Homo sapiens: one gene and its partner. The protein of the gene in region 1 interacts with the protein of each later gene in a pairwise test. Each region holds a gene or a part of one and is shown on either strand. Other genes may lie near its edges.

The links.
Region 2: the proteins of PPP3CB (region 1) and FBXL17 interact in a two-hybrid assay, tested with the Homo sapiens proteins (one large-scale study listed by BioGRID).

The regions. Positions count from the first base shown.
Region 1 is NC_000010.11:73,486,025-73,489,524, reverse strand, and holds part of PPP3CB (serine/threonine-protein phosphatase 2B catalytic subunit beta isoform), read left to right. Parts: intron 1-3,500. UniProt on the Homo sapiens protein: Calcium-dependent, calmodulin-stimulated protein phosphatase which plays an essential role in the transduction of intracellular Ca(2+)-mediated signals.
Region 2 is NC_000005.10:108,372,099-108,375,598, forward strand, and holds part of FBXL17 (F-box/LRR-repeat protein 17), read right to left. Parts: intron 1-3,500. UniProt on the Homo sapiens protein: Substrate-recognition component of the SCF(FBXL17) E3 ubiquitin ligase complex, a key component of a quality control pathway required to ensure functional dimerization of BTB domain-containing proteins (dimerization quality control, DQC).

The DNA.
Region 1 (3,500 bases):
TTGGAGAATTAATAGAGACCGTGCATATAAAGTAGGTACCACAGTTCCTGGCCTGGCACATGGTAAGTACTCAACCAATGGTAACCATCACCATTATTATTATTATTATTATTATTGAAGGTTTTAAAGTAGAATAGTGACCCAGTATCTTGTTTTTTGATGGCTAATTCTGGCCATATTGTGTGCAACAAATTATTGGAGGGCAAGAAGCTTAAAGCAGGTTGTCTAATTAGAAGATTAATGGAGTAGTCCAAGTGAGGGATGACCAAGGCATGAAAAACTAGATACGACACAAATTCCTACTAATATTAGAAGGTAAGTATATTGGATGAGTGATTGAGTATGGAAGTGAAATAGGTGAGCAACAGTTTTTTAGGAAACAATAATCAGAATAATTTTGCTTTAGGGCTAGATTAAATTGGGCAATTGTAGTTAGATGCAAAGATTGGAATGATATGTAAAAGACTGAGAATGGTTAAATTGAGAAGAACCTTGAAAATAAGATCCAAAGTTTTCTTTTTCTTTATTCTTTAGTCATTAAGAAACTACCCCAAGTTTTTGAGTAGGTTAATTTACTACTTTGTTCAGTCAAAGAGGAAGAAGAGATTTTTCTAGTAAATGATAAGAACTTGAACTAGTATTGCAACAGTGGAGATTTAAGAAAATTGAATTTGAAGAATCAATAGGACTTAGAGTTCAGAAAGAGAACAATGACATTAAGTGTGAGTGATAGAGAATGGTGATACCTTAACAGGTGTAAGCCAGGAAGGGGAGCCAATTTTGAGGGAAAGGTATATTTAAAAACCACCACAAATTAAAAGAGACCCAATGGATACCTTGAAATTTTGAAGACAATGCTGTTGGATTTATTGAATCTTTCCTTAAAGCATGTGGCCAATCCATACTTCTACTCCTGGCAAGCAAATGGTTATATCATTCTTCATGATGAGGCTTTTTTTTTTTTTTTTTTTTAACCCTCAAGACAGGATCTTGCTCTGTCACCCAGGCTGTAGTGCAGCGCCATGATCATAGCTCACTGCAGGTTCAAACTTCTGGGCTCAAGCGATCCCCCAACTCAGCCTCCCAAGTAGCTGGGACTACAGGCACACACCACCATGCCTGGCTAATTTTGTTTATTTTTTATGGAGACAGAGGTCTCACTATGTTGCCCAGATTGGTCTCAAATTCCTGGGCTCCAGTGACTGTCCTGCCTTGGCCTCCCAAAGTGCTGCAGTTACAGGTGTGAGCCACCACGCCCAGCCATGATCAGCCTTTTGATGTCTCCTTTTGTCAAAAGAAAATTGTCCTTGTGTTGGTATAAAGACATATGCTACAGGAGCAGCATTCTGAAGACTTCAATTTCAACTATGGCTCTACTTCTTACTAGTGAAACCCCTGGAGAAGCAACTTAATGTCTCTGAACCTGTTATCTATCATTTGTGAAATGGGAGATAAAACTTGCCTGACCCTAACCCCAGCACTTTGGGAGGTGGAGGCGGGCGGATCACTTGAGGTCATATGTTCGAGACCAGCCTGGCCAACATGGTGAAACCCCGTCTCTATTAAAAATATACTAATTAGCCGGGTGTGATGGTGGGCGCCTGTAATCCCAGCTACTCGAGAGGCTGAGGTAGGGAGAATCGCTTGAACCTGGGAGGCAGGGGTTGCCATGAGCTGAGATCTCACCATTGCACTCCAACTGGGGCAACAGAGCGAGACTCTGTGGAAAAAAAAAAAACAAAAACTTGCCTGACCAAACTCAAAGGATGTCCCTGGGAATCATGTAGGATTATGTATGTGAAAGTACTTGGTCAACTATGAATAAAACACTATAAATATATTGTCATTGCTACATAAATTAGTGTCGTTAAACAAGTATTTTGGAAACTATAATCATTAATTCTGTAAACATTTCTTAATACCTATGTTTTTCCTGTTTGTTTTTTTTTTTTTTTTTTTTGGTTTTGGTTTTTTTTTGAGATGGAGTCTCACTCTGTTGCCCTGGCTGGAGTACAGTGGCATGATCTCGGCTCACTGCAACCTCTGCCTCCCAGGTTCAAGCAACTCTCCTGCCTCAGCCTCCCAAGTAGCTGGGATTATAGGCATCTGCCACCACGCCCCGCTAATTTTTGTATTTTTAGTAGAGACGGGATTTCGCCATGTTGGCCAGGCTGTTCTCAAACTCCTGACCTCAAGCGATATACCCACCTTGACCTCCCAAAGTACTGGGATTACAGGCATGAGCCACTGCACCTGGCCAGTTCTTAAGTTTTAGATAGGTTTTGATAATGGTGGAACTTAGAATGGATAAGACTTGTGGGCCAGAAACTTGAGCCTATGATGACTAGTTTTCTTTTGAGAGAAAGTCTCACTCTCGCCCAGGCGGGAGTACAGTGGCCCAATCCCGGCTTACTACAACCTCTGCTTCCAAGGTTCAAGCAATTCTCGTGCCTCAGCCTCCCCAGTAGTTAGGATTATAGGAGCCCGACACCATGCCCAGCTAATTTTTGTATTTTTAGTACAGATGGGTTTCACCATGTTGGCCAGGCTGGTCTGAAACTCCTGACCTCAGGTAATCCACCCGCCTTGGCCTCCCAAAATGCTAGGATTACAGATTTAAGCCACGGCACCCAGCCTATGATTAGTTTAATAGATAGCAGGGACAAGGGTAAACTAGCCAGAAGGCATGAATCTCAAAGGAGGAGGCATTTTTTTTCCCTTAGTGGAGAGATGATGTTGGAAGTGCTAATGCGGAGCTAAGAGAATGCTGAAGCCTCCACTGAGATTAGTGGAATGCGGAAAAATGAGCACCATCCACTTTGAAAAAAGAATTTGATAAGTGTTGTCCTTCAGGAGACCCAAGATGTAATTAAACTAGAGAGATGAAGACAGTATTCTGTGTAGAGCTAAAGAAGAGAGAGGCCAAGCGCGGTGGCTCACGCCTGTAATCCCAGCACTTTGGGAGGCTGAGGTGGGTGGATCACCTGAGGTCAGGAGTTCAAGACCAGCCTGACCAACATGGAGAAACCCAGTCTCTACTAAAAATACAAAATTAGCCAGGCGTGGTGGTGCATGCCTGTAATCCCAGCTACTTGGGAGGCTGAGGCAGGAGAATCACTTGAACCTGGGAGGCAGACGTTGCGGTGAGCTGAGATTGCACCATCGCACGCCAGCCTGGGCAACAAGAGCAAAACTCCGTCTCAGAAGAAAAAAAAAAAAAAAAAAAAAACCAGTCTGGCCAACATAGTGAAACCCCATCTCTACTAAAACTACAAAAAATTGGCTGGGCGTGGTGGCTCACGCCTGTAATCCCAGCACTTTGGAAGGCCGAGGCAGGCGGATCACGAGGTTAAGGGTTCGAGTCCAGCCTGGCCAACATGGTGAAACCCCGTCTCTACTAAAAATACAAAGATTAGCCGGGCATGGTGGTGCACGCCTGTAATCCCAGCTGCTCAGGAGGCTGAGGCAGGAGAATCGCTTGAACCTGGGAGGCAGAGGTT
Region 2 (3,500 bases), on another chromosome or scaffold:
TCTCATATAATCCTGTCCAAGTGCCACCAAATGAAGCTTGTTGTGTGTTACCACTTCTTATAATCATATCTCTTTCTTGAGAAACATCAAAATCCCTTGAACCTCTACAAGAAGAAAGAATCAGCAAACCTAAAGATAGGTAAATTAAAATTACTGAGTCTGTGGACTGAAGGAAAATGAACATACATGTGGAACCCCACCAAACATACTAATATACATATAATTGGAGGCACAGAAGGAAAAGAGAGTGAAAGAGGCCTAAATATTTGAAGAAATAATGGCTAAAACTTTCCAAATCTGATGAAAGGCATGAATCTAGCTCATAAACTCAATGAATTCCAAGCAGGATAAATGCAAAAGGATTCATATCAAGATGCATCATAATCAAATTGTTGAAAGACAAAAACCGAGAGAACCCTGAAAGCAGCAAGAAAAATGCAACTCGTGAAAAGGACACTCAATACAATCAACAACTGATTTTTCACTGGAAACCATGGAGACCAGAAGGCAGTGGGATAACATATTCAAAATGCTGAAAGGAAACTGTCAACCAAGAATCCTCTATCTGGTAAAACAACCCTTTAAAAATAAAGGCAAAATTAAGATATTTCCAGATAAACAAAAACTGAGGAAGTTTGTCACTGGTAAACTTCCCCTAAAAGAAATACTATAAAGAGTCCATCAGGCTGAAATGTAAGGGGATCAGACAGTGGCTTAAAATCACATATGAACTAAAGGATACCAGTAATTGTTGGTATTTACATAGGTAAATATAAAAGTGCATATTACTGTGTCTTTGGTTTGCAATGCCTCCTCTTTGCTATATGATTTAAAAGACTACATAAAACAGTAATTATGAATCTATATTGATTGGCACAAAATTCATAAAGCTGTAACTTGTGACAATAACAACAAATACAGGAGCAAAGTTTTTATATACCACTGAAACTAAACTGGTATTAATTCAAACTAAATTGTTATAATATATAGTGTTAATTATAACCCCCAGGGTAAATACTAAGAAATACACACATAATTATTTACTATATTTTATTTATATATATAATTCTCATATATACATATTCTCACATTACATAAATATAACATATCTAAATATATTATATTAATATAAATATAATATATATCTAAATATATTAATATAAATATAATATATATCTAAATATATTAATATAAATATAATATATATCTAAATATATTAAATTTTTATTAATATATATCTAAATATAATATATCTAAATATATATTAATATAAATATATATCTAAATATATTAATATATTTAGATATGTTATATTTATTTATATAATGTGAGAATTATATGTATATATGAGAAGGGGATCAAAATGGTACACTAGAAAATATCTGACACAAAGAACAGCATCAGAGGAATTGACAAACAAAAAATATATAAGACATAGAGAAAACAAATAATAAAATAGTAAATGTATTTCCTTATCACTAATTACACTAAATGTAAATGGGCTAAACTTTCCAGTTAAGACACATAAGGCCAGGGCCAGGCACAGTGGTTCACACCTGCAATCCCAGCACTTTTGGGAGGCTGTGTTGAGTGGATCACTTGAGCCCAGGAGTTCAAGACCAGCCTGGGCAACATGGCAAGACCCTGTCTCCACAAAAAAAATGACAAAATTAGCCAGCCATAGTGGTATGCACCTATGGTCTCAGCTACATGGGAGGCTGAGGTTGGAGAATAGCTTGAGCCCAGGAGGTCGAGGCTGCAGTGAGTTGTGATCGTGCCACTGCATTCCAGCCTGGACAACAGACTGAGACCCTGTCTCAAAAAGAAAGACACAATGAATAACAGGATAAAATGTAAAAACACAATCCAATTATATACTGTTTACAAGAGACTCAATTTAGATCCAAAAATATACACAGATTGAGAGTAAAAGCATGGAACAATACATATAGCAAAAACTGACAGAATTGAAAGGAAAAAAACCAAAAAGAGTTCCGCATTAATGCTTGGAGACTACAACGTACAACTTTCAATAATGGATAGAACAACCAGACAAGAGATGAACAAGTAAACTGAACACTTGAACAAGACTTAAACATGGCCTATCAGATATCTCTAGAACACTACACAAAATAGAATACACATTCTTCTGAAGTGCATAAAAACATTCTCAAAGACCAAAGTCTAAAATACTACACTACAAGTCAAGTCTCAACAAATTTGAAAATATTAAGCTCATACAAAGTATCTTTTCCAATGACAATGAAAGGAAATTAGACATCAGTAACAGAGGCCAGGAACAGCAGCTCAGGCCTATAATTCCAGCATTTTGGGAGGCCGAGGGAGGCAGATCACTTGAGCCCAGGGGTTTAAGACCAGCCTGGGCAACATGGCAAAACTCCCATCTCTACCAAAAAATACAAAAATTAGCCGGGCGTGGTGGCATGTGCACCTTTAATCCAAGGTACTAGAGAGGCTGAGGTGGGAGGATTGCTTGAGCCCAGAAGGCAGAAGTTGCAGTGAGCCATGATCACACCACTGCACTCCAGCCTGGGTGATACAGTGAGACTCTGTTTCAAAAAATGAAAGAAAAGAGAAGAGGAGAAGGGAGGTGAGGAAAGAGGAGGGGAAATCACTAACAGGAGGAAATCTGGAAATTTCACAAATACATGAAAATTTAACAATCAACAAGTAAGAAGAACTCATAAAGAAAACTAGAAAATAATTTGAAATTAATGAAAACAAACACATATAGCAAAATCTATGGGATACAGAAACAAGTAACTACATTTAAAAAGAAGAAAGATCTTGAATTGGCAACCTAAACTTCTACCTCAAGAAACTATAAAAAGAAAACTCAATACAAACTAAGCAGAAACAAGGGGGAAAAAATACAGCTAATACAAATGAAATATAGACTAGAAAAATAATAGATGATCAACAAAACCAAAAGTTTATTCTTTAAAATGATGAGGCCGAGCACAATGGTTGACACCTATAATCCCAGCACTTTGGGAAGCCAAAGTGGGAGGACTGCTTGAAGCCAGGAGTTTGAGACCAGCCTGGAAAACATAGCAAGACCCTGTCTCTACAAAAATTATTTAAGAAATTAACCAGGCATGCGCCAGCATGCCTGTGCACCCAGCTACTCAGGAGGCTGACAAGAGGGAAAGTCACTTGAGCCCAGGAGTTTAAGGCTGCACTTCCATTTACATAGCTATAAGCTATGATCACACCACTGCACTCAAGCCTGGGTGACAGAGACCCTGCACACACACACACACACACACACACACAAAATTGGCTAGACTAAGAATAAAGAGAGAAGACTCAAATTTTAAAATCATGTATAAAAATGGGAACATTAATATCAACCTTACAAAAAGTACACAATTATAAGAGAATACTATAATTGTATGCTACCAAATTGATGAAATAGATGACAAATTCCTAGAATATAAACTATAAAAACTGACTCAAAGGAAATAGAAAATCTGAGT